Linked DNA regions of Homo sapiens. The protein of the gene in region 1 purifies or fractionates together with the protein of each later gene. This does not show direct contact. Each region holds a gene or a part of one and is shown on either strand. Other genes may lie near its edges. The genes, in order: ARHGAP4 and WDR33.

Evidence for each region.
Region 2: the proteins of ARHGAP4 (region 1) and WDR33 purify together in Homo sapiens (affinity purification with mass spectrometry, with the first as the bait; one large-scale study listed by BioGRID). This does not show direct contact.

The regions. Positions count from the first base shown.
Region 1 is NC_000023.11:153,908,953-153,912,764, reverse strand, and holds part of ARHGAP4 (rho GTPase-activating protein 4), read left to right. Parts: coding exon 1-65; intron 66-1,575; coding exon 1,576-1,636; intron 1,637-1,765; coding exon 1,766-1,843; intron 1,844-1,930; coding exon 1,931-2,065; intron 2,066-2,153; coding exon 2,154-2,259; intron 2,260-2,360; coding exon 2,361-2,594; intron 2,595-2,679; coding exon 2,680-2,753; intron 2,754-2,840; coding exon 2,841-3,024; intron 3,025-3,229; coding exon 3,230-3,322; intron 3,323-3,595; coding exon 3,596-3,695; intron 3,696-3,812. UniProt on the Homo sapiens protein: Inhibitory effect on stress fiber organization. May down-regulate Rho-like GTPase in hematopoietic cells.
Region 2 is NC_000002.12:127,804,579-127,808,390, reverse strand, and holds part of WDR33 (pre-mRNA 3' end processing protein WDR33), read left to right. Parts: intron 1-3,812. UniProt on the Homo sapiens protein: Essential for both cleavage and polyadenylation of pre-mRNA 3' ends.

The DNA.
Region 1 (3,812 bases):
AGCCCCGCCCCAGCTCCCAGTATAACCAGAGACTCTTTGGGGGAGACATGGAGAAGTTTATCCAGGTACTAGCTTTGCCCCACATGCCAGCCCACCTGTACATGCTGATCTTTCTTCAGCTCTGGGTCACCTCAGTGGCCGGAGCAGCTGCCTGATCCCAGGGTCCTCCACTCTCAATCAGTCATCAACTGTCCTTTTCTGGGTGGGCCTCTTCCAGGCCACTGTTGGGCTCCCCTATAGCCTCCGCTGATTGAAGGGAGCATCCTTAACTAGTAATGGGAACGTATAGAAAACCTGGGGCAGCGGCATTTTTAGGGGCGAGATATTGAGAGCTTCTCCCCTGCGACTTCTGGCCAGCATGGTACTGGGGGTCCTGGACAGTGAAATAAGGGGAAGCAAGAAAGATCAGAAAACTAATACTGAGATCAGAAAGCATCAGAGGGGGCCAGGCACGGTGGCTCACACCTGTAATCCCAGCTCTTTGGGAGGCTGAGGTGGGCAGATCCCTTCAGCCCAGGTGTTCGAGACCAGCCTGGGCAACATGGTGAAACCCCGTCTCTACTAAAAATACAAAAATTAGCCAGGCATGGTGGCACGTGCCTGTAATCCCAGTGAAAGAAAGAAAGAGAGAGAGAGAGAGGGAAGGAAAGAAGGAAGGAAGGAAAAGAGAGAGAAAGAAAAGAAAAGAAGCAAGCAAGCATCAGAGAGGGCCAGGCATGGAGAATACCAGAAGATCAGAACTGATATCGTCATTTTCAGTGATGTGGTTATGCGTGTAGCATATTCAAAAGAATCAACAGATTCTTTAAACGAGCACTTTGAGTTTCTTTCTTTTTTTTTTTTTTTTTATTTGTTGAGACTGGTTCTTGCACTGTTGCCCAGGCTGGAGTGCAGTGGCACGATCTCAGCTCCCTGCAACCTTCACCTCCCACCTGCTGGGGTTCAAGCGATTCTCATGCCTCAGCCTCCCAAGTAGCTGTGTGCACCATCACACCTGGCTAATTTTTATATTTTTAGTAGAGGTGAGGTTTCACCGTGTTGGTCAGGTTGGTCTCGAACTTCTGACCTCAGGTGATCCTCCTCCCTTGGCCTCCCAAAGTGCTGGGATTACAGGCATGAGCCACCACACCCAGCTTGAGTTTTGAAATGTTACTTGATTCAAGATTGGTGTACAGAATTCAATTGCATTTGTATATTCCAGCAACAATTTGCAAATACAACGTAAGGCACTGCCTAAAACCTCATCAAAAATATCAGACACCTACGAGTGGATCTAACAAACGGTGTGCTAAGCCTCTGTGCCGACAACGATGATGTGTTCTTCAGAGAAAATAAAAGCACTCAGCCTGGTGCGGTGGCTCATGCCTGTAATCCCACCATTGGGGAGCTTGAGGCAGGAGTATCACTTGAGCCCAGGAAGCTGAGGCTACAGTGAGCCGAGATCACGCCAGTGCACTTCAGCCTGGGTGACAGAGTGAGACCTTGTCTCAAAAAAAAAAAAAAAAAAAAAAAGCAATTGAATGACAACACAGGGCATGCTGTGTCCATGGTGAAGTAAACACCCTCTGTCCCCAGAGCTCAGGCCAGCCTGTGCCCCTGGTGGTGGAGAGCTGCATTCGCTTCATCAACCTCAATGGTAAGCAGGACCCAGCCCCTCCCGATGTCCTGGCACCCAGCACCCAGTTCCCAGCACCTGGCATGGGAGGCCATCCTGGAGGGGCTGGGGAAGATGCTCAGTGCCCACCAGCTCCTTGTCCTCCCACAGGCCTGCAGCATGAAGGCATCTTCCGGGTATCGGGTGCCCAGCTCCGGGTCTCAGAGATCCGTGATGCCTTCGAGAGAGGTGGGGACGGGCAGGGCGGGCGGGGGTGGGGGCTCGGGCAGATGTCACCAGCTTCCTCCCCCTACCGCACCACTCGCCCATCTGCAGGGGAGGACCCACTGGTGGAGGGCTGCACTGCCCATGACCTGGACTCGGTGGCCGGGGTGCTGAAGCTCTACTTCCGGAGCCTGGAGCCCCCACTCTTCCCCCCAGACCTGTTCGGCGAGCTGCTGGCTTCTTCGGGTGAGGCTGGGGCCTGAGGCTGGCGGGGTAGGGCACTTGCTGGGGCAGCCCCGCTCACGCGGCTCTCTCTGGGCGGCTTTGGCCACAGAGCTGGAGGCCACAGCGGAGAGGGTGGAGCACGTGAGCCGCCTGCTGTGGCGGCTGCCCGCGCCGGTGCTGGTGGTTCTGCGCTACCTCTTCACCTTCCTCAACCAGTGAGTGCTGCGGGGCGAGTGCTGGGGTGGGGGCCAGGGGTCGAGGGGACAGGGGGACTCGGGGTGCGGGCTCTCTGCTTGTGATGTGCGTGTCCCCCCAGCCTGGCCCAGTACAGCGATGAGAACATGATGGACCCCTACAACCTGGCCGTGTGCTTCGGGCCCACGCTGCTACCGGTGCCCGCTGGGCAGGACCCGGTGGCGCTGCAGGGCCGGGTGAACCAGCTGGTGCAGACGCTCATAGTGCAGCCCGATCGGGTCTTCCCGCCCCTGACCTCGCTGCCTGGCCCCGTCTACGAGAAGTGCATGGCACCGCCTTCCGCCAGCTGCCTGGGGTACACCCTTGGTGCTGCCGAGGGGACTGGGGGGTCCACTGGAGAAGAGCCCCCCTCATCTGCCTCGCTCTGCCCTGAACCTCAGGGACGCCCAGCTGGAGAGCCTGGGGGCGGACAATGAGCCGGAGCTGGAAGCCGAGATGCCCGCACAGGAGGATGGTGAGGGCGATGGGCAGAGAGCCCCACCCTGTCCCCACCCTAGTGTCCACACCCCCTCCCACAGCTTGGACCCCCTCTCCTCCCCAGACCTGGAGGGGGTCGTGGAGGCTGTGGCCTGCTTTGCCTACACGGGCCGCACAGCCCAGGAGCTGAGCTTCCGGCGGGGGGACGTACTGCGGCTGCACGAGAGGGCCTCGAGCGACTGGTGGCGGGGGGAGCACAACGGCATGCGGGGCCTCATCCCCCACAAGTATATCACGCTGCCCGCCGGGTGAGTGAGCCGCGCCCTCAGGCCCCAGGGCTCCCGGAGTCTCCCCTTCATCCACCCCTCCCCCGACCCCAAGTTAGATTCTGAAGGTCTGGGCTGGGCCAGAGAACAGAGCCTCTCTGACCACTCCTGGCTGGCGCGGAGCTGCTGGCCCTGGACCCCGTGCAGGGAAGGAGCACTCGAAACAGGCCGGTCCTTCCCACCGCAGGACGGAGAAGCAGGTGGTGGGCGCAGGGCTGCAGACTGCAGGGGAGTCTGGGAGCAGTCCCGAGGGCCTCCTGGCATCGGAGCTGGTCCACCGGTGAGCAAGAAGACGGGGCTCAGGGGGCCACACGTGTGCTGTTCTAGGCCAGAGGGGACTGGGGTCAGGCTTTGGCCAGTGGGAGTGGGAGGAGTTGGCAGATGAGGACGTGACAGAATGACCCAGCTTGTGACAGGGAGAGGCTCTAGAGGAGCTTGGGGACCACTGGGCCAGCCTCCTTTCCTTGGCCACACCCCAGGATGGGAGGAGCCACTGCCCAGCTAGCTCAGGGACTTCCCAGGGCCCCCACCAGGCTCCCTGTCTGTCCTGCAGGCCAGAGCCATGCACCTCACCTGAGGCCATGGGACCCTCTGGACACAGACGACGCTGCTTGGTCCCAGCCTCCCCAGAGCAACACGTGGAGGTGGATAAGGTGAGAGTGGGTGTGTGGCAGGTGAGGGACATCTGTCCTGGGGGATCTCTGCCTCCCCTTGGAAGCCAAACTCCTCCCTCCTCGAGGTTCCAGTCGTTGCCCTCCCTGGCCTTAGCT
Region 2 (3,812 bases), on another chromosome or scaffold:
AGTATTGGAAAGGGCATGTATGGGTTTCAGCAGCAAATGGACCTAGGTTTGAATGCCAGGCTCACCATTAACTACCTTTTTTATATTGGGTCAGTTAATTAAACTCTCTAAGCTTCAGTTTCTTTGTATATAAGAATGTTAACTATAAAACCTAAAGGTAAAAAGTGCCTCATATATAGTAGGCATTCTTTAAATGTTAACATTTTTTTTCTTTCTGTGATGAATTTAATTGGTGACATCATTTTCAGTTTTAAACATTAACTCAAATATCTTTGTTGAAATTTACTGACAATCTCATTCCTCTGATAAGTTAATCACTCCTTTCTCTGCTATTAAAGCATTTTGTATATATCTTTAATGTATTTTGACTATACCTTCTCCACTACTTGTGAATACTTTGGTTTTTAGTTTGTTTGTTTGTTTTCTGAGACAGGGTCTCACTTTGTCACCCAGGCTGGAATACAGTGGCATGATCATGGCTCACTGTAGCCTCTAATTCCTAGGCTCAAGCGATCCTCCCACTTCAGCCTTTCAAAGTCTTGGGAGTCATGAGTCCCTGCTGCCAGCTCTTTGTGAGCACGTTGAAGACGTGCTATAGTACCTTATATTTTTGTATTCCTAAAACCTAGGCATTATACAAATTGAAGAATGAATTTTCTACAAAAATTCCCCTCATGACTTGGTTTATTTCTGATCTTTGGCTGTTGCTTATTAACTCTTTGCCTAGATTGTATTCTCCTTCCTTTCACACTATTCCTATTCTGTTCAGTCCTTAAAATCCAGCTAAATCCAATTAATGAGGTCTTCAGTGACTCTCATTTATTCATAACTTGTTTAGTTAGTCTAGTGTCTGTGTGACTGCCTTCTGTTACTTTGTGTCCCATTAGTACCTGCCTCTATGCCTTACCATTTTGAGCAGATCCTTGAGTGGGATGATACGTGCAAAACTGTGCTTTAGGCAGTTTGTTGTTATAGGCACCTGCTCTCTACTCTGTTTGCTCTCAACTTAGTAGGTGGAGCAGCAATTTTCCTTTTTTGGTATATGGAATATTCTGGTAACTTTTTTGCAACTTTAAGAAATTTCAAGCCAGGTGCAGTGGCTCACATCTGTAATCCCAGCACTTTGGGAGGCCGAGGCAGGTGGATCACCTGAGGTCAGGAGTTCAAGACCAGCCTGGCCAACATGGTGAAACCCCATCCCTACTAAATACAAAAAAAATTAGCTGGGCGTGGTGGCACATTCCTGTAATCCCAGCTACTTGGGAAGCTGAGGCAAGAGAATTGCTTCAACCTTGGAGGCGGAGGTTGCAGTGAGCTGAGATTGCGCATTGTACTTCAGCCTGGGCAACAAGAGTGAAATGCCGTCTTAAAAAAAAAAATTTCAAACATGCAGCAAAGGTGAAAGAATACTACAGTGAACACCCATATGCCTTCTGTTTGGATTCGACTGTTAACCAACATTTAACCATTTTGCTTTAACTCTATATCCTCCCTTTCTTGAATGATTTGAAATTAAATTGCAGATATACTGCTTTTCCCTGTAATACCTCAGGATGCATGTCTTTGAAATAATGCTTTTTCCTACGCTTTTCTACATTTTTATTTCAAGCCAGTCTCCAGCTGAAAACATATAAAATCATTATCATACCTAAGGCAATTAGCATGAAATCTTTAGCATCATCTTTTTTTTTTTTTCGAATGAGTTGGTGTAGTTCTATTTTTTTTTGGCTTTGTTCCACAGTTGTTGAAGAGTTGGTTTAATTCTAGGTTACACAGAGTTTAGGGTAGAACAAAGACCAAAGAGCAGTCTCTGGCAAGATTCTGGGCTGGTTTTACTTTAAATTCATAGCTAAGGCAGGAATGGAGTGAAAACAACTAAAGAGAGGCCGGGCGCAGTGGCTCACGCCTGTAATCCCAGCACTTGGGAGGCTGAGGTGAGCAGATCACCTGAGGTCAGGAGTTTGAGACCAGCCTGGCCAACATTGTGTAACCTCGTCTCTACTAAAAATACAAAAATTAGCCGGGTGTGGTTGCGCATGCCTGTAGTCCCAGCTACTCGGGAGACTGAGGCATGAGAATCGCTTGAACCCAGGAGGTGGAGGTTGTAGTGAGCTGAAATTGTGCCACTGCACTGCAGCCAGGGCAACAGAGCGAGACTGTCTCAAAAAAAAAAAAAAAAAGAAAAAGAAAAACAACTAAAGAGATGATGAGCCACTGTAAGCATTTTAATTTATTTTATTAATATTTTTTATTTAAAATTTTAAAATTTTGTTTATTTTGAGACAGGGTCTTACTTTGTCATCCAGGTTGGAGTGCAGTGGCACAATCACAGCTCACTGCAGCCTCAACCTCCCAGCTCAAGCAATCTGCCCACCTTGGCCTCACAAAGTGCTAGGATTACAGGTGTGAGCCACCACACCTGCGGTTTTTTTTTTTTTTTTAAACAAAAGTTTATTCTTTAATGTGCAGTAGACTCCAGCTTCAAGACGACACTTCATTCCAGCTATAGGTGGCAACAGATATTATGGCAGGGAATACAGATGTTTAAATACGAATGAAATCAAGGGTCACCATTGCTTCAGGCACAGGGCACAGCTTACTTTCTGCCAGATTTTTAAATTCCACCTGTGGCCGGAGCCCCTTCCAGGAGGCTTTCGCTTTTAGCTCCTTGTGTTTCTTTCGTTCCTTTTCTTGTTTCTGCTTGAAAGCCTTATTCATCTTCTTGGCCTGCTTTTTGGGCAGTTTCAAAGGGTTCTTCTTGCCACCTTTGAGGCCGGACCTGGCACCTGCTGCCCCTTCCTGACTCTGTCACCACAAACAGCTAGCCTCATCTTTTTAAAGAACGTTCCATATTTTGGAATTTCTTATTGTATGCTTAAAATGTCATGTATTTTGTTTCTCAATTCCTGTTGTTTCTCTATTCCTTTTATTTCCTGTAAACTAGAAGTTAGATCTAGAGAGGTTTGACTAAATTTGGGTCAAATATTTTTGGCAAAAATACTTCATAGAGGCCAGGTGCGCTGGCTCATGTCTGTAATCCCAGCACTTTGAGAGGCTGAGGCAGATGGATTGCTAGAGCCCAGGAGTTCAAGACCAGCCTGGACAATTTGGCAAAACCCTGTCTCTATTTTAAAAAAAGAAAAAAAAATGCTGGGTTTGGTGGCCTGCGCCTGTAGTCCCAGCTACTTGGGAGGTTGAGACAGGAGGATGGCTTGAGCCAGAGAGGTGGAGGCTGCAGTGAGCCGACATCCTGCTGCTGTACTCCAGCCTAGGCGACAAGAGAACCCTGTCTCAAAAAAAAAAAAAAAAAAAAAAAAAAAAAGAAAAAACTTCACAGGTGATGATACGTGATTTATGTTGTGAGGATATACTTCTAGCTATGAGCCTTCAATAAGGTGGTAGGGACTGCCAGATGTTAGCTTGCGTTATTTACAATGCCAAATTTACCTGGTTAATGTGTCCATTGGATTTCTTCATCAAAGAGGTATATTTTTCCCTTTGCAGTTATACTTGATCTGTGGGGTGATAACTTTAGCATCATGTGAGTACCTCACTTCTCAAAATATTTTTCACTTAATGATTGATGATTATTAGCTGAGTCATTTATTGGGGGTTTTCTAATTTTGTTATTTGTTTATATTCATTAACTGTTTTCTGTAATAAAGAGCTTTTGCTTTCCCCCTTTCGTGTTTAAATGTTTAAATTTTGAAATAAATATGAACTAACAGAAGAGTTGGAAGAATAGTTCAAAGAACTCCTATGTACTTTTTATTCTGATTCACCCATTTTTAACATTTTGTCACATTTGCTTT